Linked DNA regions of Homo sapiens. The protein of the gene in region 1 interacts with the protein of each later gene in a pairwise test. Each region holds a gene or a part of one and is shown in the gene's direction. Other genes may lie near its edges. The genes, in order: SAMD3, PRKCG, DBH and SETX.

What was found.
Region 2: the proteins of SAMD3 (region 1) and PRKCG interact in binary tests that used the Homo sapiens proteins (3 or more experiments, as listed by UniProt).
Region 3: the proteins of SAMD3 (region 1) and DBH interact in binary tests that used the Homo sapiens proteins (3 or more experiments, as listed by UniProt).
Region 4: the proteins of SAMD3 (region 1) and SETX interact in binary tests that used the Homo sapiens proteins (3 or more experiments, as listed by UniProt).

Annotation. Positions count from the first base shown.
Region 1 is NC_000006.12:130,219,951-130,226,999, reverse strand, and holds the start of SAMD3 (sterile alpha motif domain-containing protein 3), read left to right. Parts: upstream 1-4,048; 5' UTR 4,049-4,306; intron 4,307-7,049.
Region 2 is NC_000019.10:53,885,182-53,892,204, forward strand, and holds part of PRKCG (protein kinase C gamma type), read left to right. Parts: intron 1-4,456; coding exon 4,457-4,568; intron 4,569-4,704; coding exon 4,705-4,836; intron 4,837-6,492; coding exon 6,493-6,649; intron 6,650-7,023. UniProt on the Homo sapiens protein: Calcium-activated, phospholipid- and diacylglycerol (DAG)-dependent serine/threonine-protein kinase that plays diverse roles in neuronal cells and eye tissues, such as regulation of the neuronal receptors GRIA4/GLUR4 and GRIN1/NMDAR1, modulation of receptors and neuronal functions related to sensitivity to opiates, pain and alcohol, mediation of synaptic function and cell survival after ischemia, and inhibition of gap junction activity after oxidative stress.
Region 3 is NC_000009.12:133,639,341-133,646,363, forward strand, and holds part of DBH (dopamine beta-hydroxylase precursor), read left to right. Parts: intron 1-505; coding exon 506-652; intron 653-2,866; coding exon 2,867-3,124; intron 3,125-4,072; coding exon 4,073-4,249; intron 4,250-4,877; coding exon 4,878-4,980; intron 4,981-7,023. UniProt on the Homo sapiens protein: Catalyzes the hydroxylation of dopamine to noradrenaline (also known as norepinephrine), and is thus vital for regulation of these neurotransmitters.
Region 4 is NC_000009.12:132,351,983-132,359,920, reverse strand, and holds the start of SETX (probable helicase senataxin), read left to right. Parts: upstream 1-4,934; 5' UTR 4,935-5,004; exon of another isoform or gene 5,005-5,284; intron 5,285-6,165; 5' UTR 6,166-6,272; intron 6,273-7,938. UniProt on the Homo sapiens protein: Probable RNA/DNA helicase involved in diverse aspects of RNA metabolism and genomic integrity.

The DNA of each region.
Region 1 (7,049 bases):
CAAAAAGGGTTAAGACGGTAAACTTTACATTATGTATATTTTTGCACAATTTATTTAAATGTAAAAAATATCAGATTACTGTATTTATTGTACATCCTTAGCTTTATGAAAAATCCTTGTAAACACAATGTTACTAATTTAATTTCAGTGATGTAAATAATTTTTTTTTTTGAGACAGAGTTTCGCTCTTATCGCCCAGGCTGGAGTGCAATGGCATGATCTCGGCTCACTGCAACCTCCGCTTCCCAGGTTCAAGCGATTCTCCTGCCTACAGAAAAGCTACACTGACAGTAGCTGGGATTACAGGCGCCTGCCACCATGCCCAGCTTATTTTTAGTAGAGACGGGGTTTCACCATGTTGACCAGGCTGGTCTTGAACTCCTGACCTCAGGTGATGCACCCGCCTTGGCCTCCCAAAGTGCTGGGATTACAGGCGTGAGCCATGGTGCCCGGCCCCTCATAATTATTTTTATAAAGTGTTATACACATTTCTCAAAGGTATAATTTGTGCATAATGACATTTGGGGATGGTGTGCTAACTTTGACCTATAGGGCTCTGTACATTGGAAATAAATCATAATAAATCTTTCAATTGCTCCTCAAACTTGGCTGATCATAAGAATCAATGGTAATGATTAGAAATACTATAAGAACTCACTCTACCCACCTGAATCAGAATCTTCTAAGAAAGGGCTTAGGAATCAATATTTTCATGAAGTACACCCCTTGTTCTTATATTAGGTAAGTTGGAAAATCATTCTTAAAAATAAAATTCTGAATTCTGAGTTCAACAGAGAGAAACACAGGGGATCAGCAGCAACCTCTGCACCCTTCAATAACACCTCAAGCTCCAGTCTGCCCATCAGGCTCTCCAGAAAGGTAGAATGACAGCTTCACTAATACCCCTTCCTGGGAAAAGCGGCGCTGTCCTGAATTACTGCAGATACTTCTGCAACAGTGGATAGAAGACTGTACCAGGAAGAGAATAACTGGATGAGATAACTCAACAAGTGATCACATCAATTAGATAAGAAGGGTGATGTGATCAGAAGACAATGGAGCCAGGATTAAGCCAACATCAGGCTGACCCCTCAATTTCCTTAGGCGTCTCTCCTTAGCACTTTACCAGGAATAGGTGCCCAGGCAAGCATTTTTCAAGCTTCCAAATGCCAAGGAGTTTGAAATGACAAGTTAGTTTTTGGCCTGGTTATAGAAATACTGAATTTTCTCATATCTTAAGCTTTTTGGATGACCTAATATATGAATAAATATTTTTCCTCTTCTTCCAACTACTCTCACCTTTATATTGGTGTGCCACATTTGTTCCCATATGTAATCAAAGAATGGTAGAAGTGAGTAGGCAGCAGTTAAGATTGGAATGTAAGGATTTTTAAAAATAAGTTTACCTTGGAACAATCTAAAGAGGAAAGCTATGTGCTATTATAATCCTTACAGTCTTTATTTCTAATATGCCTATCTTACTGAAACTGATCCAGTAGTCCCATAGACAGTTTTTCTTAAATATAGAAATTAATCCTTCTGGTTTTAAAGCTTGAAACTCACCAGATCCAGACAATGAGATACCAGCCTCTCATTCATTGTAATTGCTCCCTTACTCCTTCCACATTCTTGTTTTCCCATACATATTTAACATTTCTTCCCCGCTATATAAACCTCTAATTTTAGTTGATCAGGAAGATGGATTTGAGACTGAGCTCCCATTTCCTGGACTGCAGCACCTGATTAAAGCCTTCTTCCTTGGCAATACTTGTTGTCTCAGTCGTTGGCTTTCTGTGCAGCAAATAGCAGGACCTAAACTGAACCCCTGGTGTTTCAGTAACATTATTTTTTACTTGTTAATCATTCACATAACCTTTTCCTCTCCTCCTTACTTTCTTCCCCATGCTCACTCACTCTCTTGCTCAGTACTGCTCTCTGTCTCTGTCTGTCTCTCTTTATCTCTCTCTAACACACACACATACACACAAATTCAGACACACAGACTCATATTTAATGATGGACTATAGCCTACCAATTGGTATGAATTTTACCTTTTGGGCCAACTCTAAAAAGAGTGCTTCGGGCTGGGCGTGGTGACTCATGCCTGTAATCTCAGCACTTTAGGAGGCCGAGGCAGGCGGTTCATGAGGTCAGGAGATCGAGATCATCCTGGCTAACACAGTGAAACCCCATCTCTACTAAAAATACAAAAACTTAGCTGGGCGTGGTGGCACGTGCCTGTAGTCCCAGATACTCAGGAGGCTGAGGCAGGAGAATCGCTTAAACCCAGGAGGTGGAAGTTGCAGTGAGCTGAGATCGTGCCATTACACTCCAGCCTGGGTGACAAAGGGAGACTCCATCTCAAAAATAATAATAATAATAATAATAATAATAATAATAATAATAAATAAATAGAGTGCTTTTGCATAAACAAAAGTTTGAACATTCTGGCCCGTCCTCACATGAACCTAGGGCTGGCAGAAGCATGAGCATTTGTCACTCATGAGAAACACAGGGTCCTATGCCTTTTTGTGTCTCCACACCTCCCATCTGTGCTTTGCTTTTGATACGGGAGGCGGGCAGGGAAGTGCTGGGTAGAGAAGAATGGGGTCCCTGGCTAGGGCTCCACCCTCAGGCCTGTACCCATGGACGTAAGTGAGAACAGGCACTCCTGTTTTCACGCCCAAATGTTGCATTTTCCAAAAGCACTCTGGCCCGCCACACCCCCATCCTCTGCCTATAAAAACCCTGAGACCCTAGCGGGCACAGACACAAGCGGCTGGACATCAAGAGGAACACACTGGCAGAATACACTGACAGACTGGCAGGACATCAACAGCAGTATGATGTGGACCACGTAGAATTTGCCTGGGGGTGGTTGGAGGAGAGTCAGGCCACTGAGCGGCCTGACTCCAGGGGAAGACCGCCTTCCCATTCCATTCCCCTTGTGGATCCCATCCATCTGCTGAGAGCTACTTCCACCAGTCAATAAAACTGTGCACCCATTCTCCAAGCCTACATGTGATTCAATTTTTCTGGTACATTAAGGCAAGAACCTTGGGATACAGAAAGCCCTCTGTCCTTGCGATAAGGCAGAGGATCTAATTGAGCTGATTAACACAAGCCACCTGCGGATGGCTAAGCTGAAAGACTGCACTGTAACACACTCCCACTGGGGCTTCTGGAGCTGTAAACACTCAACCCTAGGTGCTGCCATGGGGTAGGAGCCCATGCTCCCCATGACCTGCCCGTCTGCATGCTCCCTCTAGGGGTTTGAGCTGCAGGGTACTGAAGAAGCGAGTCACACCCATCGCACGCCCTGCAAGGGTGTTTCCAAGTTTCACTTTGAGTCACACTGCATTAAGAAGATCCACTACCTTGCATCCCCTTCTTCCTGAAGAGGCCTACAAAGTCAGACCAGCACTTAGTGTTAACAGATCAAGAGAGCCCAGCTTGACTCTACCAGCTGAGCAATATAGGTGGATACAGAAGTCACCTTTCATGTGTTCTAACAAATGAGTAACTCCAAAAAAATAGTTGTAATATTTTAATAATGTAAGTTCTTGCCACTACTCAGAGCTATAAAATGTTCAGCTATCACCTGCACTATCACGTACACACTGAGCTATGTAACGAGAATTACATTCAGCCAATGTCTGCTAAATAAAGGTTTGTGCATTTTAGTTCAATGATGTAGCTACAAAGAAAATGAAGCCTCAAGACACTAGAACCTTCTGAGATGCAAAGCTTTGAGTCCTTGACTTTGAATTCAATGTCTAAATTCTAATACATTATTATTATATCTGCCTTAAGATTGATATAGGAAATTTTTTTTCTAGTTAGTGTTATTTCTTCTAGGAGCTTAAAAAAGGTAACTAAGGAAGAATTAAATGTTCCAAAGATATATTATGGTAAACATGTATGTACATACATGGGTATTTGTCACACTTGTCAGAATCTTCTTCCTTTGAGAGGTGCAAACGTTAGCTGTCTGAGATCCACCCTGTTTCAAACTTACCTTATGCTTCCTGTGTACTGTGAGGCTCCCAGTCTTGCTGTCTTTCAATGGGGCAGCCACTGCTCAGTTGCTGCCATTCAGAAATATGAACCCAGTATCACCAGAACTTTTGATTTTTCAAGAGAAACCAAGATTCCAGATTTGTAGGTGATATCTTCCATTTTTCAGATAAAACAAAGGAACCAGAACCACATCCACTGATCGGATTTGCCTGGGGAGGAGGGGTGCTCTCTCCTTTGATCTTCTCTTCTGGAAGAGATGGACCAAAAGCCTCTCCAGCAATAATCCGTAAATATCACTTTTTACCTTTTCTCTATAAAACTCTAACTTTTCTGATATTAAGATAAAATTCTTTCATTGAGAAAAATTTAAGAGTGGCAGATTACAAACAAAAAACATTAATTCCTCCAAACAGAGATTGCCACTTCTGCCTTCTAGTATATGCTTTCCCAGCCTTTGTGTAACCAAGCATTTCATTCTACTTTTATTTTATTCTTTCCACAAATCTGAATCATACTATTTTAAATTTATTTGCAGTTAACCATATCCATGACTGTTTCTCTCTACATAGTTATTTGTCTAGATACAATTTTTGATTACTACATAGTATTTTATTTTAAATATAAATTACTGTAATTCATTGGCCAATTCCTATTGCTGGAAATTTTATCTGTCCAATTTATTTGCTATTCGGACCATTGCTATGGCACACATCTTTGTGTTCATTTCTGTTAATGTCTTTAGGCACATTCTTAGAAATGCTATTTTGGGGTCAGAATGTAGAAATATTTTTAATGTTTTTGGCTTGCATTAGTACCCTTTAAAGTTGGATAGATTGGATTCAAATCACTTTTACCTTTACAAGCAAAGGAACCTTAGGCGAGTTACCCTGTAAACTCCAGGACTTTCAATTATAAAATGGGAATAATATGACAGGGCAAGTTGTGCCACTTTATACTCCCCTTAGCAGTGTGTAAGAGAACAACTGACCTTGCATTCTTGCTAATTTTCACCTTTTCCAATGGAATAAATGAAGATGGTATTTAATTATTTTTATTACAAATAATGTAGATTTTTCAGATACTGGTTTAAAATTTTGTTCAAGAGTTACCTATTCCTATTTTTTTCTATTGGTGTATTAATTTTTTAGTTGGTTTTATGGATTATAGAGTTGACCCTTGAACAACATGTGTTGGAACCTCTCAGGTCCACTTACATGCAGATTTTCTTCTGCCTCTGCCACCCCTGAGACAGCAAGACCAACTCTCCTCTTCCTCCTCCTCCTCCTCAGCCTACTCACTGCAAGACGACGAGTATGAAGATCTTTATGATGATCCACTTCCATGTAATAAATAGTAAATGTTTTCTCTTCCTTGTTATTTGCTTAATAACATTTTCTTTCCTCTAACTCATTTTATTGTAACAGTACTGTATATAATATATATAACATACAAAATATGTGTTAATTGTCTATGTTATCAGTTAAGATTCTGATCAATAGTAGGCTATTAGTAGTTAAGTTTGGGGGTAGTCAAAAGTTACTTGCAAATTTTCAACTGCATAGCAGAGTCAGCGTCCCAACCCCTGTGTCGTTCAAGGGTCCACTGTGATATATATGTGTACACATGCGTTTTTCCTTTTTAGTCAAATCTATCAATATTTTATTTTTATTATGTAATCTTAGATTATTTTAAACTCTTTTTAATTTTTCATATTTACATATTTAACTTATCTGAGGAATTTATTGTGTAGGTGTTATGAGGCATTATCCCAACAAAATATATTGACTAATCCCTTCTTTGTCACCAATTTTAAAGATCTTTTCACTGGCTGGGCGTGGTGGCTCATGCCTGTAATCCCAGCACTTTGGGAGGCCAAGGTGGGCAGATCACAAGGTCAGGAGATCGAGACCATCCTGGCTAACACAGTGAAACCCCGTCTCTACTAAAAACACAAAAAAATTAGCTGGGCGTGGTGGTGGGCACCCGTAGTCCCAGCTACTCGGGAGGTTGAGGCAGGAGAATGGCATGAACCCGGGAGGCGGAGCTTGCAGTGAGCCGAGATCGTGCCACTGCACTCCAGCCTGGGCAACAGAGCGAGACTGTCAAAAAAAAAAAAAGATATTTTCAGTACTTCCATATGAATGTTTCTGTTTCTAAGTTTCTATTCTGTTTCAATATCTGTTCTCTTTTCCTCCAGTACCATGCTGTTAATAGCATAACATTTTTTAACATCTGGAAGTGCAAGTCCTTTTGTCAAGCATTTTTCGTTCTTTTTACCTATTTATTCTTCCACATGAAAACTAGCCTCATAGTAAGTAAAACATATAACCACGTATGTATATTAATTGGAATTTATAAATTAATTCTGAGGGAAATGACATCTTCAAACTATCAAGACTTCTCAGTCACACATCCAGCTTTTCATAAAATTCAATAGCACAGTTCACAGTTACCATCTCTGGCAGGACTGTAATCTGTGTTGCTGAACCATAAGCTTTGGCTGTCAACGAGGCAGAAGCAGGGATAAACCATAAGTTTGACTCAAAGGCCAAAACACTAGGGTGTTTGTGACTCAAAAGTTCCAAAGTTCTGGGACTCTGGCTCATTGCTATTTTTGTTCATTAATTTAACTAAACCTCCCAGATAAGTGGCTCTTTAGTTTCTTTGAAAATGTAAAAATTGGCCAGGCTAGTGGCTCACACCTGTAATCCCAGCACTCTGGGGGGCCGAGGCAGGTGGATCACAAGCTCAGCAGTTCGAGACCAACCTGGCCAACATGGTGAAACCCCATTTCCACTAAATATACAAAAATTAGCCTGGCATGGTGGCACGCGTCTGTAATCCCAGCTACTCAGGAGGCTGAGGCAAAAGAATGGCTTGAATCCGGGAGGTGGAGGTTGCAATGAGCCGAGATAGTGCCACTGCACTCCAGTCTGGATGACAGAGCGAGACTCCATCTCAAAAAAATAGAAAAAGAAAAAAATGTAAACATATGAAATTTAAGTTACTATGACTGTGCTCACCACTTT
Region 2 (7,023 bases), on another chromosome or scaffold:
GATTAGAAATTCCATTTCGTGTCATTTGAATTGGCTTAAATTTTTTTTTTTTATTTTTATTTTTTGAGACGGAGTCGCGCTCTGTTGCCCAAGCTGGAGTGCAGTGGCGCAGTCTCAGCTCAATGCAACTTCCGTTTCCCAGGTTCAAGCAATTCTTCTACCTCAGCCTCCTGAGTAGCTGGGACTACAGGCGCATGCCACCACACCCCGCTAATTTTTTTTGTATTTTTAGTAGAGATGGGGTTTCACCATGTTGGCCAGGCTGGTCTCGAACTCCTGACCTTGTGATCCACCCGCCTCGGCCTCCCAAAGTGTTGGGATTACAGGCGTGAGCCACCGCGCCCGGCAGAACTGACTTAAATTTAAACAGCCACATGTAGTTAGTGGCCACCAAATGGGACAGCACACATCTGGACACTTCCAGGCTTGTTTTGAAGTCAGGTGGGTTCAGAGTTTCGCCCAGGGTTTGACACAAGATCGGAGACAGTTTTATGATGTACAGATGGAGAGAGAGGCAGAGAGAGAGAGATCCACAGAAGTCCATGAGGCGTTTTACCACCCTCTCAGCTGAAAATAACAGAAGTCTACATAGAAGATGTGACTTCATAGAACATATATTGAGCACCACTGTCTACCAGCACGTGTATGTGATTGATGACCCCCCTCGTCCACTCACCTCCGCCACCAACACCAGATAAGTCTGATGCATCCAGTGCTCATTGGGTACACTCATCAAGATTTTTTTTTTTGTTTTTTGCCTGTAATCCCAGCTACTCGGGAGGCTGAGGCAGAATTGCTTGAACCTGAGCGGCAGAGGTTGCAGTGAGCCAAGATCACGCCACTGCACTCCAGCCTGGGTGACAGAGCAAGACTTTGTCTTGGAAAAAAAAAAAAAGATTTTTTTTTGTTTTTGTTGTTTTGTTTGATTTTGGGGTATTTTTTAGATGGAGTTTCACTCTGTCACCCAGGCTGGAGTGCACTGGTGCAATCTTGGTTCACTGCAACCTCTACCTCCCAGGTTCAAGCGATTCTCATGCCTCAGCCTCCCGAGTAGCTGGGACTAGAACAGGCATGAGCCACCATGGCCGGCTAATTTTTATATTTTTAGTAGACAGGGTTTCATCATGCTGGCCAAGCTGGTCTTGCTCCTGACCTCACGTGATCCACCCACCTCGGCCTCCCAAAGTGCTGGGATTACAGGCGTGAGCCACCGCACCCAGCCGATTTTTGGGGTTTTTTGAGACAGGGTCCCACTCTGTCACCTAGACTGGAGTACAGTGATGGGATCATAGCTCACTGCAGCCTTGAATTCTCCAGGCTCAAGTGCTCCTCCTGCCCCAGCTTCTCAAGTAGCTGGGACTATAGGCACAAGCCACAACACCTAGCTAATTAAAAAAAAATGTTTTTGTAGAGATGGAGTCTCACTCACTATATTGCCCAGGCTGGTCTTCAACTCCTGGTCTCACTCGATTCTCCTGCCTCAGCCTCCCAAAATGATGGGATTACAGGCGTGAGCCACTGCACCTGGCCTCAAGTATTTTGTATACAGTATAGGTTGGATCCACACAACAGCTTATTTGGTTATTTTTCCCTGTCTATCTGGTTTGAATCCCAGCTCCACCACTTTTTGGTTCTGTGACATTTCCTGAGTTAATTTACCTCTCTGCACTTGTTGAATTCCTTGTTTGTAAAGTGGAGATGATAATTATGCTCACTATGGATTGTTTTGAAGATTTAGTGAGTCAGACATTTGGGATGGTTTCTGACACATAGCAAGAGCCAAAATATTATTTTTTATTCTTGTTAAAATTATTATTATGACCAATGAGGAAACGAGTGAATAGTGAGAAGGAGATCTTTCCTCTGCATCACTCGGGGGTTTTTTTGTTTTTGTTTTTTTTTGCTGTTGAGACAGGGTCTCACTCTGTTGCCCAGGCTGGAGTGCAATAGTGCTATCACTGCTCACTGCAGTCTTGACCTCCGGGGCTCAAGTGATTCACTGCTGGCAGTTGATCTTCTTAAAAGTAACATGCAGGCCAGGCACAGTGGCTCACGCCTGTAATCCCAACACTTTGGGAGACCGAGGCGGGTGGATCACCTGAGGTTGGGAGTTCGAGACCAGCCTGACCAACATGGAGAAGCCACGTGTCTACTAAGAATACAAAATTAGCTGGGCGTGGTGGCACACGCCTGTAATCCCAGCTACTCAGGAGGCTGAGGCAGGAGAATCACTTGAACCCAGGAGGCGGAGGTTGCAGTGAGCCAAGATTGCGCCATTGCACTCCAGCCTGGGCAGCAAGAACAAAACTCTGTCTCAAAAAAAAAAAAAAAAAAAAAAAAAAAAAAAAAAAAAAGGTAACATGCCTTGACCAGGCATGGTGGCTCATGCCTGTAATCCCAGCTCTTTGGGAGGCTGAGGCAAGCGGATCACGAGGTCAGGAGATCCAAACCATCCTGGCTAACGCGGTGAAACCCCGTCTCTACTAAAAATACAAAAAATTAGCCAGGCACGGTGGCACGCGCCTGTAGTCCCAGCTACTCGGGAGGCTGAGGCAGGAGTATCGCTTGAACCCCGGAGGCAGAGGTTGCAGTGAGCCGAGATCACACCACTGCACTCTAGCCTGGGCGACAGAGTGAGACTCCATCTCAAAAAAAAAAAAAAAAAAAAAGTAACATGGATCAAGATTTGGCAAGAATGATTTCATTTAGTCCCCAGGGAGGGCACATGCCCCCACTTTTCAAGCGGTAAATCTGAGGCTTTGAAAAGGGGCAGGCGTGGTGAGGCCACCTAGCTGGGTAGGGGATAGAGGCAAGATTTGAACTCTGATGTATGTAACCACAGCCTCCGTGCTGTCTCCTTTTTAACAGCGACGTTCACTTTTGAGAATAAGAACAGCAGCCTCTGTCTGTGGATGGTTTGTGTGTCAGGCAGCCTGCTGAGAACCTTCACACACAGCATCTTATTTAGTGCGGCAGGAACCCTTTGAGTTAGGGTCAGCGGAGATATTTAGAAGCCCAGCACATTGAAAAGGATCCTGGAAACTGCCAACACCCTCCTCTACCCAAATATATATTCAAACTAGAAACCCCACTAACATAGATGAAAATCCAAGAATGGCCTAAATGTTCACCCTGTGATAATCCTTTTAATGGATTCTTAGAATCAAGTTATTTAACAAGCAGATATTGTCCCGGGGGTAGTGGGTGGCAGGGGAGAAGGAGAAGCTTCACTGATGACCTGCATTCTTGCTTAATGGACTCTGGAAATTTAGCATTGCTTCAAAATATAGATTATTTATTTCCACTTGACAGAGGAGGATGCTGAGGCTCAAAACTGGGAATGAACTTGCCCCAAATCACACAGCTGAGAAGCGGCCTAGCTCTTACTTACATTCAGGGCTATGTAGGGACTTCAATAAAATCCCTAACAATAACCACAGTAATAGTATTGGGAGCATCTAACGTGGTAGGCACAGCTATGTTTTGTACACCAATTATTTTATTTAGGCCTCCTGGGTTCCTATTATAACTGAGAGGTCATGTTCTCCATTCCACCTGGAGCTCAGAGAAGGCATACCATATGGACACTGACAGAAGCTGCCAGTGAAGGAGCTGGGGTTCAGGGTGGCCCACAAGTCCTCAAATAATAACTTGTGGGAGTTGGGGGGATGGGAACTATGGGAGGTTGGAAGCTCCTGCCTCCTTCATGTTCTGCCCAGATATCATTTGGTCAGCGAGGCCCCCCTGCCACTCCCCCTGCACACAGTTTTGTTGTTGTTGTTGTTGTTTGAGACAGAATCTTGCTCTGTCATCCAGGCTGGAGTGCAGTGGCACAATCTTGGCTCACTGCAACCTCGGCCTCCTGGATTCAAGCAATTCTCATGCCTCAGCCTCCTGAGTAGCTGGGATTACAGGCATGCACCACCATGTCCGGCTAATTTTTGTATTTTTAGTAGAGACAGAGTTTTGCCATGTTGCCTAGCCTGGTCCGGAACTCCTGAGCTCAAGGCAATCCGCCCACCTCGGCCTCCCAAAGTGCTGGGATTACAGGCATGAGCCACCGCACCCAGCCAGGACCACCGTATTTAAAATTTCAATCCCCCAACTTCTGGTGGTCCCCATCCCTGCCTCATTTTTTCTCCAGAGCACCCATTACCAACCATCAAACTATATGTTTTATTTATTTACCATGTTTACATTCTGTATCCCTCCATTAGGAAGTAAACTCCATGTGACAAAGAGGTTTTTTTTTTTCATTTGTTTAATGCTGGGTCCCCACACCAAGAACAGTCCCTGGCACACAGCAGGTGCTCAATGATTATTGGTACATAGAGTGAAAGAGATGGAGCCTCAGGCTGACCTAGAGAGCAAGGCAGGAGGAAAAGATAAAAGGGCCCCTCCCCTGGGGTTTTAGGACCCTCCCAACGCCCCCTAAGCCAGTCTTCTCTGCCCCCAGGACCCCCGGAACAAACACAAGTTCCGCCTGCATAGCTACAGCAGCCCCACCTTCTGCGACCACTGTGGCTCCCTCCTCTACGGGCTTGTGCACCAGGGCATGAAATGCTCCTGTGAGTGACCTGGGCCTTGCCAGGGCCCTTCCAAAGCGCCCGGTCTGGGTTCCGGGAAATGCCCGGGATGGGGTGGGGGGTGGAGTCTTGGCTTGGGGGCGGGGCCTGAGGTGCTACCCGCAGCTTTCCCCTCCAGGCTGCGAGATGAACGTGCACCGGCGCTGTGTGCGTAGCGTGCCCTCCCTGTGCGGTGTGGACCACACCGAGCGCCGCGGGCGCCTGCAGCTGGAGATCCGGGCTCCCACAGCAGATGAGATCCACGTAACTGGTGAGGCCCCGCCCCCTCGCCTGGCCCCGCCCCCTCCCCAAGTGTGAGGCGGGGCTGACCCAAGGCACTTGTGCTGGCCCAGCCCTACCCCAAAGATGGGGCCACGCCTCTTTCTATGGTCACGCCCACACTCCTGACCCCACCCCAAAGGCCGAGCACACCCAGCCATACCCCTTTTGGCTCGAAGCCCCGCCTCCAACCTGGCTTCTTGCAACTTTCTGCACCTGTTAATGACTTTGACTTTCTTTTTTTTTTTGGGACGGAGTTTCGCTCTTGTTGCTCAAGCTGGAGTGCAATGGCGCGATCTCGGCTCACTGCAACTTCCGCCTCCCGGGTTCAAGTGATTCTCCTGCCTCAGCCTCCCGAGTAGCTGGGATTACAGGCGCGTGTCACCAAGCCCGGCTAATTTTTTGTATTTTTAGTACAAACGGGGTTTCACCATGTTAGCCAGGCTGGTCTCGAACTCCTGACCCCAGGTGATCCCCTCGACTCGGCCTCCCAAAGTGCTGGGATTAACAGGCGTGAGCCACCGCGCCTGGCCAATGGCTTTCTTTTTTGTTTTTATTTTATGTTTATTTTTTTGAGATGGAGTCTTGCTCTGTCACCCAGGCTGGAGTGCAGTGGTGCAATCTTGGCTCACTGCAATCTCTGCCTCCGGGGTTCAAGGGATTCTCCTGCCTCAGCCTCCCGAGTAGCTGGAATTACAGGCGCCTGCCACCACATCCGGCTAATTTTTTTTTTTTTTTTTTTTTGAGACAAGATCTCGCTCTGTTGCCCAGGCTGGAGTGCAGTAGCATGATCTCAGCTCACTGCAACCTCCGCCTCTCAGGTTCAAGCGATTCTCCTGCTTCAGCCTCCTGAGTAGCTGGGACTACAGGTGCATGACACTGCACCCAGCTCATTTTTGTATTTTTAGTAGAGACAGGGTTTCACCATGCTAGCCAGGCTGGTCTGGAACTCCTGACCTCAGGTGATCCGCCCGCCTCCGCCTCCCAAAGTGCTGGGATTACAGGGGTGAGGACCGTGCCCGGCAATGGCTTTCTGGGTATAAGGATCTTGAGAAGGGAGAGTACCTGGTTCTGAGGGAGGCTGTGGTTCAGTACTGGTGACATGGCCAGGGTCCAAACTCTGGTTCCTAATGGAGAGAAGGGCTCTGGATCTGATTTCAGGGTCACTGGTTGCGGAAAGGGCTCTATGCCCTGTCTTCTGGGTTCTGGAGAGGTAAGAAGTCATGAGAAACGAGACTGAGAGCTTGGAATTCTTTTTTTTTTTTTTTTGAGACGGAGTCTCGCTGTGACGCCCAGGCTGGAGTGCAGTGGCGTAATCTCGGCTCACTGCAAGCTCCGACTCCTGGGTTCACGTCATTCTCCCGCCTCAGCCTCCTGAGTAGCTGGGACCACAGACACCTGCCACCACGCCCAGCTAATTTTTTTTTTTTTTTGTATTTTTAGTGGAGACGGGGTTTCACCATTCACAGGATGGTCTCGATCTCCTGACCTTGTGATCCGCCCGCCTTGGCCTCCCAAAGTGCTGGGATTACAGGCATGAGCCGCCGTGCCTGGCCAAGCTTGGAACTCTTGATTGCTGACTGGAGGAGGGCTGGGAGCCCCTTCCTGGATCTCTAACCCGTCACACTCTTCCTCACTCCCCGTTTAGTTGGCGAGGCCCGTAACCTAATTCCTATGGACCCCAATGGTCTCTCTGATCCCTATGTGAAACTGAAGCTCATCCCAGACCCTCGGAACCTGACGAAACAGAAGACCCGAACGGTGAAAGCCACGCTAAACCCTGTGTGGAATGAGACCTTTGTGTTGTGAGTCTGGGGTGCAGGGAAGGCAATGACAGCTGACAGAGAATGATCTGAGGGTCCTAGTGGCCCCCAGAGAGCAGCTGATGGGAGGGGTTAGGATAGAGGGAACCCAGAAAAGGGCAGAAGAAGATGGTGGGAAAAGGGAATAGAGTGATTGAGGGAGTGGGATGGAGATACAGAAACGGAGAGACAGCCAGACCACTGTATAATTAGTCTCCATTGAAGCCCCCAACTTTAGAGTTAGACAGAGATGAGAGAGAGAAGAGAGAGTCTCAGAAGAGGCAGAAACCCAAAGAGAGACACAGATGGAGAGGGAGGGGAGAAGATGGGGGATGGCAGGGAGACAGAGATCAGTTGACAGGAAGACAGAGTGATAG
Region 3 (7,023 bases), on another chromosome or scaffold:
GATGTGGCACCCTGGTTTCTCTCTCCTTTCCTGTTCATGTCCCACCCTGTTCCCAACTCTCCCCTTTCTGAGGCTCCGCAACTCTCCTGCCTGCATGAATGTGGGCAGCATTGGTCTGAGGCATTGTTCCCAGTCTTGAGGAGGCCTTGGGAGCCTCAGGCATCTTCTTAAGAAGCTCAGTGTCCCGCCCGCCAGGCCCGGGAATGCCCATGGCTAACAGAACCTGTGACCTGCTGGCAAGTGACAGCCCTGGTTCCTGGCTGCAGAGGAGGAACCAACTCCACTGTCGGGGCTCATCTCCACTGTCTCCAGGCAGAAATGGAGATAGAAGGTGTGAGTGAAGCCACAGCCCCAGGCAGAACCCTCAGATCCACAGGGACTGAGGCCCAGCATCCCCAGATCAGCTGGCAATGAATGCGGAGCTCTGCCGGGGAATGCCCTCTTCCCCTGTGGATTGGCCCGGCTTGGCTCCTTCATGCCTGGAGCCCAGTGCTTGTCTCTGCAGGACGCCTGGAGTGACCAGAAGGGGCAGATCCACCTGGATCCCCAGCAGGACTACCAGCTGCTGCAGGTGCAGAGGACCCCAGAAGGCCTGACCCTGCTTTTCAAGAGGCCCTTTGGCACCTGCGACCCCAAGGATTACCTCATTGAAGTAAGGGGTGGCCGCGAGTACCCAGGAGGGCGTGGGCTGCGTGTATCATGCTGCCATCCTGTGCCAATGTCATAGTACCTTTCCTGTCCCTGATAAGTCTGGGGCCTGGGCCTGGCCAGCTATGACAGAGAGAAAGCCAAGGAGGATGGCCAGAGGCAGTGGTGGGGCCAAAGCACTTAGGATGGTCCAGCTCTGCTATTGCCCCTGAGCCCTCAAAGACGCAGCTCTTTGCCAACACGTAGCTGACATGGTTTCTAGATGCGGGGCTTGTGCTGAAGCCTCTCCCATTGGACTAGACCTTGCTTCTGGATGTCTCTCTCCTCCTGGTCCTGTTAACCATCAGGTGGGATTCTGGAGCCCAGGCGACCTGGCTTTCCATCCCGGCCCTGTTGCCAGCTCGCTGTGAGGCTCGGGACAACTGCCCCCCTCCTCTGGACCTCACTTTGCCCATCTGTAAAATGGAGATGGGAACTAGATGATCTGTATGGCCTGACCAACTCTGGGAGTTCATGGGAGCCATAAAACATTGTAAAAGCCATAGGCTTCTTATGCTGCTCTAAGAGCCCCCCAACCTCTTAGGGAAAGCAACCCACCTTGCCCTTGAAGACAAAACTCTTTTAACTCTAGCACACCTGACAGCTTTTGTCTTGTGTAAGTAATCCTTTGGTGTGGCAGTGGCCTGGGCTGGCCGTTAGTGCCAGGTCTTAATCATGGGTGTAGCTGAGTGACCACACGGGAGGCCAGTGCCATCGAAAGATTGATTGCATTTCCGGAGAGAAGGGGCACCTGTGCCGTGCAGGGCCACCTGCAGAGCCCTGGGTTTGGTCAGGAGGCAGATGCAGGAGCTAGGGGAGAGCCCAGGCCTGAGGCTTTCTTGGGGTTTCCATGGGAAAGGCCAGGCAGGGCAGGGAAGTTGCTTCATTTGGACAATTCTGGTGGGCTCTGGGTGGCCGGGGTGGTCTCTAGTTGCCTGGTTCCTGGCCCTAGGGTGATTTAGGGCTGAGGCAATATTGGCCTGGTGTGTGACAGTCAGGTGGAGGAGGTGGCTAAGGATATGGGCTTGGGACGGGTTGGAGGGTTGGGAATATGATTCTCACACAAGCGTGAATGTTGGAGGGAAGGGCAGGTGTAAACAACTCTGGCCATCTGTTTGAGCCTGCAATCCATTAATAGATGCCAAATAGACAAATACGGAATCTAAGAAAACAGAACAGCTGGCTGTTTGCCAGATGAGGAAACTAAGGCCCGGAGACGGGGAGTGGATGTACCCAGGGGTTCGGGGTGTGCTGGGGCAGACCTGGTGCCAGAAGAGGTGTTCTTCCAGGAGGTTGTTGAGCCCTTACCCTGCTTCCCAGTGGACGAGGCAAGGGTGAGCAGAGAACCCTCTGGAAGCACCTCACAGGGGGAGGCCAATGCCTGTGTGTGCTCAGCCCAGTGGCCCCAGGCCAGGTATAGGGGCCTTTGCCTGGAGTTCTGGGCGTCCCCTGCACAGGGCGGCCCATCGGCTTTCCGCAAACTCAAAGAGCAAATTAGCCACCCACACGGGTCTGCACTGTGGAGTGCCCAGAAAGCTATGAAAGGCACTTTCCACACCCGATCCCCGTTTCCATTCATGACAGCATGTGAGGAAGCCAGCCCCACAGCTTGCCTCCTGAGTCTGCCTGTGGCCTCCAGCACCGCGTAGATCCATGGAGCTTTCTGTGGCTGCTTGGTCCCCTCCTGCCAAGCTGGTGGTGACTACATAATATAGCGTGGCTCCGCAGCTCAGCGTGACCATCAGCAAGCCCCAGGGTGTTTCCTTCCCTTCATAGAGGGCACTGAATCCTCAGGCTGGGCTGCTGAACTGACCAATGATCCCCCACACCCAGTCCCCAGTGACCTTGGGGTTGGTGGAGGGAACAAATGTTCCGGCCACACTGGCTCACGGCGGGCCCAGTAGTCACTGGTTGAATGGATGTTAAGTGAATGTAGGTGGAATGTGTTTAGAAGAGAAAAGTATTTGATGGCCGGTGCAAATAGGGGATCCTGGGGGTCGTCAGCCCGGGATTTGGCCCCAGCCAGGGCCATGCAAGCCTCAAGGGTCCCTTATTCACAGAGATGAGAGTGAGGTGTGTCACCTGGTAGGTGTGGGTGGGCAGGGATGTGGCATCCTCTCAGGAGCCCAACTCTGGGGGCTCTGAGAGGGCGACCAGCTGAACCCTGTCTCGGCTGCAGGACGGCACTGTCCACTTGGTCTACGGGATCCTGGAGGAGCCGTTCCGGTCACTGGAGGCCATCAACGGCTCGGGCCTGCAGATGGGGCTGCAGAGGGTGCAGCTCCTGAAGCCCAATATCCCCGAACCGGAGTTGCCCTCAGACGCGTGCACCATGGAGGTCCAAGCTCCCAATATCCAGATCCCCAGCCAGGAGACCACGTACTGGTGCTACATTAAGGAGCTTCCAAAGGGCTTCTCTCGGCACCACATTATCAAGGTACGTGCGGGTCCAGGGCCGAGGTCCTCGCCCAGCCCTGCCTTCCTCCCGGGCCTGGGTTGTCCCTGACCCTGGAGAGCTGTCCACAGTCCTGGTTGGACCAGGTGTCCTCTTATCACTGGAACCTCAGGCACCTGCCTGAGCAGGGGAGCAGCAAGTGGTCTTGGCTTCCCCATCACTCTGCTCACTCCCCTACCCTCAAAGGGCCTTGGAGCTCCCACTTCCCTGCCTGGACCAAAGTGACCAACATCTTGACTTCTGCATCTTTCCTTGGGACTGGAACTGCTGTCTGTCTGCCAGGCCACCTCCCCCTTCATGAAAAAGCAGCTCGAGTCAGAACTCACTTGCTCTCGAACACCCGTCCGGGGAAGACAGAATAGCAAAGGCGATAGCTGTCGAGTGTCCACTATGCCACTAGTCCCGGGGGAGGGGCGAGGTGATCCCTCCTTCATCATAAGAGCCCCTAGTTTCCAGCAGAGGAAGTGTGGCCCAGGGAGGTTGAGTGTCCAGGGTCACATAGCAAGAAGGGGCATGTCCTTGAAGGTGCACTCAGAGAGGTTATGTGAGTGTCCAGAGTCACACAGCAGGAAGAGGCATGGCCTTGAAGGTGCGCTTTGGGCCCGGGCTCTAACCTCAGGGCTGCCCTGCCTCCCACTGGGGCTGCAGGAGCTGGCCCGGCCACAGCCCCATATGCATGAGGACGGCTGCGTCCTGTCCCTGCCTTGGCCTGTACGAACCTCATTTCCTTCACTCTGGAGCTGCCTACGGGATTTCTTTCTGGGCTGATGGCTCCACCCTCAAGGCTGTGAACCCCAGAAGTGCCCCTGAAATTGTCTGGATCATCCCTCCCATTTTACAGATGGGCATTCGGAAGCCCATGGAGGAGGGCTGCTGGGGAGGGGAGGGTGGGCGGCCGGTTCCCGGGCTCAGAGGGCTGCCTCCTCACAGTACGAGCCCATCGTCACCAAGGGCAATGAGGCCCTTGTCCACCACATGGAAGTCTTCCAGTGCGCCCCCGAGATGGACAGCGTCCCCCACTTCAGCGGGCCCTGCGACTCCAAGATGAAACCCGACCGCCTCAACTACTGCCGCCACGTGCTGGCCGCCTGGGCCCTGGGTGCCAAGGTGCGTGCCCTGCGACCCCAGCATGGTGTCTCCTGCCTGGGCCCCTGGCATCCCCACACCTCTGTTTCCCCAGCTTCACCGTCTCAGAGGCTTCAAGAAGGGGCTCCCAAGGGGGCTCACGAGGCCACCAGAAGGGCCAGGCCTGAGGTGGCCCCCTCGCCTCTGTGATGTCTGAAATGCTTCAAGCCTTTTTTTTATTTTCCACAGAAACGCAAGTGCCGCAGGACCTTATGCCCTCAGTGGGTCCTGATTCTGTTTCCCAACTGGAGTCAGGGTTTTGTGTACAGGTGGTCCCAGGGCTGGCTGGCGGTGGGGCCAGTGTTGAGGCCTCCACAGGCTGAGACGATGGGGGTCTCCCCAGCTCTTACACCCGTCTAGAGAAGGGGTTTTGGGGGAAGGCTCAGCCCTAGGCACCAGCTCCTCTCCCCAACTCCCTGACCCGAGTCTCACAGGATGTTCCTGGGGCGTGTAATGAGCTGCCTGTCAGGAGGAAGCATCGCTCTAATCCTGCTGCGCCCCCTCCACCACCCCTGAGGCTCAGGCCCCAACAGTTGACTGGGTTTGCCCCTGCCCAGACCTGGGGCCCTCTCAGGACACACCCGTCTGTCTGACACCTTGCCCCACACAGGCATTTTACTACCCAGAGGAAGCCGGCCTTGCCTTCGGGGGTCCAGGGTCCTCCAGATATCTCCGCCTGGAAGTTCACTACCACAACCCACTGGTGATAGAAGGTAGGCGGCTCTGCTGCCATCCTCCTCAGAAGCCCTAGGACTCAGCTGTGTTGAGCCAGTGAGCAAATCCCGCCCTTCGTCTGCCCAGCATGGTGCCCCCGCTGTACAGCTCCTCTTGGCACGAGGCCCTTGCGTCTGCCTCATCCGCTGTCCATCTTCCATGGCTGTGGTGGGCTCCCAGGGACAGGACCTCGAGGGGCTCACTCCTCACAGCTTCGCCAGGGCCCAGCAGTGGCCCCACACCTCCCTCCTCGTCCCTATAATACGGGCTGCCATCGGCGCAGCACTGTGCATCCCAGGGGAAAGGACAAGGAGAATTTTCATAAGGGAAGCTGCCAGATGCCAAGTTCCAAATACAGGGAGAGGTGTGTGCATAAACAGGGAGGTGGTAGTAAAGCAGGGCATATTCCAGGACACAGGCGCTCCGGCCTGGCCAGAGTGCAGGGACGGGAAGGGGAGCTGGGGCAGCTGCTGTTGGATCACCCATACCTGAGGGTGGAGTGAGCAGGGTCAGCTTTTAGCATGGCAAGGCCAGGTGATGCTGTCTCAGAAACTGAAAAAAATACTTCCCTCTCTCTGTTGCACCAGCATCTTTCACCATATATAGACACACACGCACACAATGCACACACACACGCACACACACATGCACACATGTACACATATGCACGCAGAAGCACACACATGCACACACTTTTTCTCTCTCTCTGAATGGTGCTTCTTCTTTTCATTTGTGCAAGGTGCAGAAGTGGCCTAAGAGATAGGTGCTAGGCTGTGCCTCACCACCTTGGGGACGCTGGGTGGATGACCTCACCCGCTGCCTGTTCTCCCACCTCCCACAGCTATTGTGAAGCTGGGAAAGGCTCACGCACAGAACTTGCTGTGGGCACGGGGCTGTGCTCAGCTAACAGTCGCCTGTGGTTTTTTTTTTTTTTCCTGGCTGCATAAGTAATACCTTCCGCCACTGTTGGAGTTATCTCCACATGCACAGAGAAGGGTATAAGTCAGCTTGGGCCTTAGCATGACACGGGATTTATTGCTCATTTAAACCCTGAAAGCAAATGGATTTTTGAAAACTCCTGAAGCATCAGGGAAGTCTGTCTCTTCATGATTATCTGGTTGTATTTATGGATCCTTTGCCAAATATAAGGACGCTCCTGTCACTTCACCCATCTTGAGATGGGCTGCTTTTCTATAAATATCAAAATCCCACAATTATTTCATGATTTAATCCCCATCTGAATTTTAACCAATTGCAACACCCTTTTTATTATTATCCTCTGATGTAATCAGCCTGGAGATACAGGAGCCGTTTGAGTTTGGATGGTGTAGGGGTGTCGAGGGAAGAAGGCAGAGGCAAGAGGAGTTGTTTTGGCCTCATCTTAAAGGAAACAAGTAGGGAGATGGTTGGGCCCCCTGGAAGTGCCCTGCACCCCAGTCCACAGCCCTGGGTTTGAACCTCAGCTTGGCCACTTCCCAGCCCTGTGGTCTTGTGTGGAGTCTTCAGTTCAGGCTCCATCCTCAGTTTCTTAATCTGTGAAATAGGGCTGATGATTCTCACTGTGCAAAACTTCCATGAAAGGGGTAGGTTATGCTTAGAGCATTTTTGGCACCCAGGGAAGATGTTAGTATCTGTACCACCCTCTTGGTTTGATCAGAAAGGGCAATGCATGTACACTGGTGAGAAGATGGACAGCAGAAAAGCATGAAGAAGATGAAACCACCCCCCAGCTCCCGGCTCCAAGTTTTGAAGTGAGCACTGGTCACCCAGCTATGTGTCTGTCCTGACTGCTTTTCTGGCCCATTAATTTTTTTCTTGTGACTAGAATTTTATATCTTTTTTTTTCATTGTTGTTTGTTTTTTTACTTAAACTTCATCAGAAGCCTCTTCCCTGTGAATTAAAACCCCTTGTCAATTTCACACTCCTTGCCGCCTGACATCCCTTTCCTGTACATAACCCAGGGGGCAGAGCCTCCTGCTGCACAGCCCCTCCAGACCACCCCGCCATGTCCGCCATGTCCACCATGTCCACCATGCATCCG
Region 4 (7,938 bases), on another chromosome or scaffold:
GTCTCACACCTGTAATCCCAGCACTTTGGTAAGCCGAGGTGGGAGAACTGCTTGAGCTCAGGAGTTCGAGGCCAGCTTGGGCAACATAGCAAGACCTTGTCTCTACTAAAAAAAAAAGAAAAAATCAGCCAGGCATGGTGGCATTTGCCTATAGTCCCAGCTACTTGGGATGCTGAGGTAGGAGGATCGCTTGAGCCCTGGATATCAAGGCTATAGTGAGCTGTGATCATGCCACTGCACTTCACCCAGGGCAACAGAGAATGATTCTGTCTCAAAAATAAATAAATAGATAAAATAAAATACTTTGAGACAAATGAACACAAAAATACAACATACCAAAATCTATGGGATGTAGCAAAAGCAGTGTTCCAAGGACAAATTATAGCTGTAGACACCTACATTAAAAAAGAAGAAATATCTCAAATCAGTAACCTACTCTTTTACCCCCAAATGGCTGTGGAATTTGTTTGCTTAATGCATAATGGTCCTGGCAAAAATCAGTTAACCAACACTGAGAGATTTGTAATGAAAAACCAACTTTAAATATTCATTACACCTTGATAGAAATTAGAGTTTACACAAACAAAAAAAGAAACTTTTGATATTGTCAGTCAATATAAAATGAATGTAATATGACTGATAGCATGGCAAGAAGGCATTTATACATTTTTCTCTAACATCTGACCACAGTTTAAGTTGCCATAATATCTTCTCTCCAGATAAAAATAGTATACTGATTTCTATAGCAAAGATTTTCTTGTACAAAAATCAAACAATGGATAAGTCACAACCGTAAAATATATATAGGATTAAAAAAACACATCAAACAGGTTCTGAAACTAAAGAACAACTAGGAGGAGGAGGAGGATAGAGCCCTTGTAGGGGGCTTGTTTTCATCCACTTGAATGTGTGTGGGGTTTGTCTTCTGAGCCACAAGTTCTGACTTGTCTCATAAAAGCCAGTTATTCTGACCAAACTTCTAAGTAAACACACAAAACACTTCTAATATTAAACATTGAAATAAATGTAGGCTATACATTCAAGAAAGATTAATAAAAGACTAATCTTTATTAATAAGATTAACAAGGTAATAATCTACCCACTCATTCCAGTTCAGGATCGCGGATGGCCAGAATCTTTCCTGGTGCCAGGTGGGTGCCAACTCTGGACAAGATGCCATCCCTTTGCAGGGTATACACTCACACACACACCCATGCTCACTCAGGCTAGGACAATGTAGACATGCCAATCAACCTAACTGGCACATCTTTGGAATCGGGAAGGAAATTGGAGTACCTGGAGGAAACCCACACAGACATGGGGAGAAGGGGCAAACTCCACACACAAAGTGGCCTCGGGGCCAGGCACGGTGGCTCACACCTGTAATCCCAGCACTTTGGGAGGCTGAGGCAGGCGGATCACGAGGTCAGGAGTTCAAGACCAGCCTGGGCAACATGCTGAAACTCCGTGTCTACTAAAAATACAAAAATTAGCTGGGCGTGGTGGTGCGTGCCTATAATCCCAGCTACTCAGGAGGCTGAGGCAGGAGAATTGCTTGAACCGAAACCTGGGAGGCGGAGCTTGCAGTGAGCCAAGATCGCATCACTGCACTCCAGAGCCTGGGCTACAGAGGGAGATTCCGTCTCAAAAAAAAGCCTTGAGCAGGAATGGATTTTTTTTTTCTCATCAATGTTATAACAAAACCACATTGAACAAAATGATCTTATTAGAGAACCTGCTATACTTAATATTGTTAAGGTGTCAATTGATTCCCCAGATGTATCTAAAAATACAATTCAATCCCTATAAAAATTCCAACTGCTTGTACTTATTTATTTGCAGAAACGGGACAAGCCAATTCTAAATATTCACATGGAATAGCAAGGGACCTTAAGTAGCTAAAACAATTTTGAAAAAGAACGATACTGGAGGCCTCATACTTCCCAGTCTTTTTATTTATTTATTTATTTATTTATTTATTTATTTATTTATTTATTTATTTATTTTTGGAGATGAGGTCTCACTCTGTCGCCTCGCCTCTCGGGTTCAAGCCATTCTCCTGTCTCAGCCTCCCAAGTAGCTGGAACTACGGGCATGCACCACTAAGCCTGGCTAATTTTTGTATTTTTAGTAGAGACCGGGTTTCACCATGTTGGCTAGGCTGGTCTTGAACTCCTGACCTCAGGTGATCTGCCCACCTCAGCTTCCCAAAGTGCTGGGATTACAGGCCTGAGCCATTGCGCCTGGCCATGTTTATGGTTTTATCAGCTTTAGAAGTTTGTAATTTGTACTTATTTATTCATTCCAAATAAGTATTAATTTTCATTTCTAATTTTATATTTACAAAGTCTATTGCAGTGCTTCTGTTTAACATTCTATAGGTTGTGTAAGTTTTGGGCTCAACAATTCCTGAATGCACCTTGAATCAATGAGTCTCAGGACATAACATTGAGTGTAAAAAGCAATTTGCAGAAAAATACATCCTCCATAATTCCATATACAGAGTTAAAAAGCATGTAAAATTTATATGTTGTTCACAGACAAAAAATGTGGGAAGATGATAAGGCCTACAGAGGGCTTCAGGGACAGGAGGAAATTATGACTTTTGTGGGCTCTGGGCACAAGTTACCTTCATGGCACTTTTCTCCATTAAAAAAAATGATAAAAATTATATTTTATGGCCGGGTGCGGTGGCTCAAGCCTGTAATCCCAGCACTTTGGGAGGCAGAGGCGGGCGGATCACGAGGTCAGGAGATCGAGACCATCCTGGCTAACACGGTGAAACCCTGTCTCTACTAAAAATACAAAAAATTAGCCAGGCGTGGTGGCACGTGGCTGTAGTCCCAGCTACTCGGGAGGCTGAGACAGGAGAATGGCGTGAACCCGGGAGGCGGAGCTTGCAGTGAGCCGAGATGGCGCCCCTGCACTCCAGCCTGGGCGACAGAGCGAGACTCGTCTCAAAAAAAAAAAAAAATTATATTTTATGACTGTGGTGGTATAAAGGCTGTGTTGGTATATTAGTGTTATATGATAAAACAAAATATGTTCAAAATATTTGACAGGATGAAGAAGTAGAAAAGAGGAAAATAACGGTCAACGCGTGCTGCTCCTTAGACGGTTAAATTTGCATAACGGCCACCACGCCCTTCCAACAAGCCACGCCCCCTTGCTAGAATCTTCCTTCGCCTTGGGCCTTTCCCGCAGTGTTCCCCTGGGCTTGCTCCTCATCCTCGGGCCAGGGTTCTCCTCGGTAAGGCTGTATCTGACCCACTTTTCCCAAGCTGGCCCATCTCAGCCTCTTTTTTTATCGCCTGAGTCACCACTACTAATTGTTTAATTTCCCTGTCTCCTCTATTAACTGTAAGACGGTGACGCTGCATCATCGTGGTCAGTAGTAGGCGTTACTAAAAGGGGGTAGGGGCCGGGTGCGGTGGATCACGCTTGTAATCCCAGCACTTTGGGAGGTCGAGGCGGGGCGGATCACTTGAGGTTGGAGTTTGAGACCATCCTGGCCAACATGGTGAAACCCCATCTCTACTAAAAACATGAACATTAGCCGGGCGTGTGGCACACGCCTGTACTCCCAGCTACTCGGGAGGCTGATGCAGGAGAATCATTTGAACCCAGGAGGCGGAGGTTGCAGTGAGCCGAGACTGCGCCACTGCACTTCAGCTTGGGTGACAGAGCGCGACTCCATCTCAAAAACAAAAAAGGGGGGGGATAGGCTTTCCAGTGGATTTTACTCATTTTTATTTATTTATAGACTTTTCTGAGACAGGGTCTTGCTTTGTTCCCCAGCCTGGAGTGTAGTGGCACAGTCACGGCTCACTGCAGTCTCGATCTCCCGGTCTCAATGGATATCCACCCCCTGCCTCAGCCTCCCAACAAGCTGGGCCCACAGGTGCTAATTTTTTTTTTTTTTTTTTTTTTTCCGGAGAGAGAGTCTCGCTCCTTTGCCCAGGCTGGAGTGCAGTGGTGCGATCTCGGCTCACTGCAACCTCTGCCTCCCGGGTTCAAGCCATTCTCATGCCTCAGCCTCCTGAGTAGCTGGGATTACAGGCACCCGCCACCACGCCCAGGTAATCTTTTTATTTTTAGTAGAGACGGAGTTTCACCATGTTGGTCAGGCTGGTCTCGAACTCCTGACCTCAGGTGATCCACCCGCCTCGGCCTCCCAAAGTGCTGGGATTACAGGCGTGAGCCACCGCGCCCGGCCTCGGTGGCTGAGTTTTAATTTTTTTTTGTACATACGGGTGTCTCGCTATGTTGCACAGGCTGGTCTCTGAACTCCGGGCTCAAGCGAGCCTCCCGCCTGGGCCTCCCAAAGTGGTGGGATTAGAAGCGGGAGCCACCGCACCAGCGAGGGATTTACTCTGCTGTGTTGCGCATCGCGCGCATTGTTCGCAAGACCTAAGGTCTCCCTTTCTTGTAATATAAAGGATATACACATATTCCTCCGAAATTACACGTTTATGTAATTTACATTTCAGGTCTTTAAAGGAAATCTAAAGAGAAAAATTACTTCGTCACCGTAGTACATCCGCTGAGACACCTGAGGCGTGGAAAAAAGAAGAAAAAAGAGGGAACGGAAATGGCCAGCGGGTAAGGGCTGACCCCACCCGCAGCAGAGCTCATCCCGGAGCCGCCCCACCCGCAGGAAGCCCCGGGCGGGGCCGAGGTCAAGGTTCCGCGGCAAACTCTCCCCGTCCACCCTGACGGGGACTCGGGATTGGTCGGGCCCCAGCTGCCCGGACGTGACGCCAGCGCCCGGCGTGGGCGGTGCACCGCGGCCGCTCTTCCCATGCCCCGCCCCCTGGGGGGCACCAAAACCAGAAAGCAGCGGCCGGGGCGGGGCCTGCGGCCGGCCGACTCAGCGCGGGGGCGGGGCCTACCTCGCGGCAACAGCTGGTTGGTAGCTGCGGCTGCGGGCCCGCACTTCCGCTGGTGGCCTAGAGCGGGGCCCGGTATGGAGGTGGGCTAGAGGCCGACGCCAGCCAGAGAGCGGTGAGGGTAGCGGCGGGCTGGAGGCCGTAGGTCGGGCGGGCGTGAGCGCAGGCGCGGCTTGTGCTTGCAGGGCCGCTTCGGGGAACCATCGCGGCGCCTAGGTCCCGGTGGGCGGATGGGGGAAGAGTCGGCGCGGGCTCGGCCGCTTCCCTCGGTGCGGGGGCGGGAGCACCCCTCGACGGCTGGCGGCCGCCTGTTGCCTTCCTGCGCGCTGGACCCGGCCGCTGCGACCCCCTGTCCTTCCGTTGTCTACACTGCGGTCTCGTGTGAGCTGTTTTTGGTGTGGATACTGCGTAGTTTCCTTGGGGCTGAGCGGGAGGTCTCGGGGTGGAAAGTGTCGGTTCCCTCCACACGCTCGTCTGCCTCTCGCCTGGAGTCCCTCCCTTTGTTTTTTTTTCTTTTTTCTTTTTTTTTTTTTTTTGAGACGGGGTCTCGCTCTGTCACCCAGGCTGAAGTGCAGTGGAACAGTCACGGCTCGCAGCAACCTCGTCTTCCTGGGCTCCAGCGATCCTTCCGCCTCATCCCCCCGAGTAACTGGGACCATAGGCGCGCGTCACCACGCCCGGCTAATTAAAAACAAAATGTGTTGCAGAGACAGGGCCTGGCTGTGTTTCCCAGGCTGAGCTCAGCTGCTCCAGGGATCCTCCGAGCCGCCGCGCCCGGCCGGTCCCTTCGTTTGGAGGAGAGTCTGTTTCTCCCACTTGGAGGGGCTGGAGCTTTTGCTGCTGGCCACAGGACTTTGTCCGTCCTCCCCAACTTCTGGGGATCTAAGGATGTGCCCAGCAATTTGCACGACCCAAGTGAAACGGGGGTGACTGCCTTGAGGGAAAAGAGCTCCACAAGGAGAAGGCCGAGTGTGGTATTTGATAAGTGACACAGCTGAGGATCCTAGGATTGATGTTACCTGCGCGGGCTAATAACTTGGGGGATTTTTGGCTCGGTGCCTAGCTGTCCCCGTGAGTGGGGACAGCCCCTTGTGGAACTGGGAGTCAGAATTGCAGTTCTGCTGTTTCCTGGAAGTCCACAGCCAAGTTGTCTAACCTATCTGGGCTTCCTCATCAGCCAGCAGTATCTGTCTGTAATAGGATCGATACCAGGCTCAGATGGGATATAGAGTATAAATGCCACTTACCAATTTCGTTTTTTGTTTTTTAATTTCAGAAATGTTCTTTTGGGGCCAGAGTCTGGGCATATATGAATGCAAATCCGTGTTTGTTCACAACTAAGCCCAGCTGAGACGATCACTTTTCTGTAGGCCATTTGTCCAGGTAATAATTTTTTTTTTTAGCAGGAGTTCAGAGCACCAAGGTAAGTGCAATGATGGAAACATGTGCAGAGTCCTAAAGGGACAGAGAAGAAGGTCATCAGAGATAGACTGGAAGAGAGGACGGGTCGGACAGGCCCCCCCCCCAGACGTGATGACACTCAGGAAGAGCTTGCACACTGGTTGTTCTCAAATCCAGCTTTCTCTTCGAATCTTAGTGGAGTTCTTTAAAAGGGAAACAATTTTATCCATAGGATCTTTTCTACTTTTTTTTTTAAGTTCCTGAGGTAAGTCTGATGTGTATTCACAGTTAAGTACCGGGCAGAGGTAGGAGGGTGGGTTTCCAAGGCCAGTGGAAGAGCTTCCATAAAGGCAGGGAATACCAGTCACCATGAATGGTTTTAGGAAGAGCAAGTCAAGGGAGGTAAGTGTGGAGGAAAGAGATGATGTGGAAGCTGGATCATCGCGGGCCTTGTGTGTGTTGAGCTCAGCAATTTGAATTTTATCCCAACATTGGAGGAGGAGTCATTTGTGCTTTCGAAGTCCAGTTTGGGGCTTTGGCCTCTGGCAGCATTTTGGAGGAGGAATTGATGGCGATCAAAGAAGAAATAGATCATTTAGGCTTCTTCAGTAATCCAGGCAAATGATGAAAATGTACTGAACTAAGGCAGTGGCGGTTGCACTGAGAAGAAAGTAGAGATGTAATTAAGGGGTAGGCTCTGGAGCTCAGAGATTGCGGCTGAGGGAGAAGGAGCGTATAGGATAATTCCTAGGTTACTGGTTTGAAAATTGAATGTATGGTAATGTCATCAACAAGGGAATATAGAACAAATAACAGATTTAAGGGAAGGACTTCGTTGGGTTCTGGTCATGTTTACTTTGAGGTGCCTGTCAGATATGTGAGTAGAGATACACTGTATGCAGTTGGATATTGAATATATCTGGAGTTCTAGGCTAGGCTGTCAGTTATTGAGTAGGTGGAACAGTGCATCATTTCACTCAACCTCCCCAGTAGCTGCGACTACAGGTGCATACCACCATGCCCAGCTAATTTTTATATTTTTAGTAGATACGGGGTTTCACCATGTTGGCCAGGATGGTCTTGATCTCTTGACCTCGTGATCCCTCACGCCTCGGCCTCCCAGAGTGCTGGAATTACAGGTGTGAGCCACTGCGCCCTGCCTGCATTAAGTTTTACAATACATTCTCAGTCTGGGCAGCTTCAATCTAGGCAGTAGTTGAAGCAGTGGTTTGAAGTAGGCCGCCCAGAAAGAGTACTGAATGAAGAGGTGAGAATTCTCAGGACAAGCCTTCGAAAACTTTAGCATTTATATGAGTAACAAAGGCAGGGGTAATTATGAAGGTGATTGGGTAGAAGTGGTGTCCAAAAAATGGTGTGTTGTAGGTAAGGAAAGGATGGGCAGCATTTTCATATGCTTTAGCAGAGTCAGGTCAGGAACCTATTGGATTGGTAATGTAAAGATTGTTAGGGACTTCACATTCAGTGGAGTGTAAGGGTAGAAGCCAGAGTGCAAAGGAGCTGAAGAGCTGGGAGGTAGTGAATCTAAACTTCCAGATGTTTAGCTGAGAAGTGTAGAAGAAAGAGATTGTTATTTGAAGTTTCTGGCTAGTTAATGTTGAGAAATGGATAGCCTAAGGATAAGTCTGTA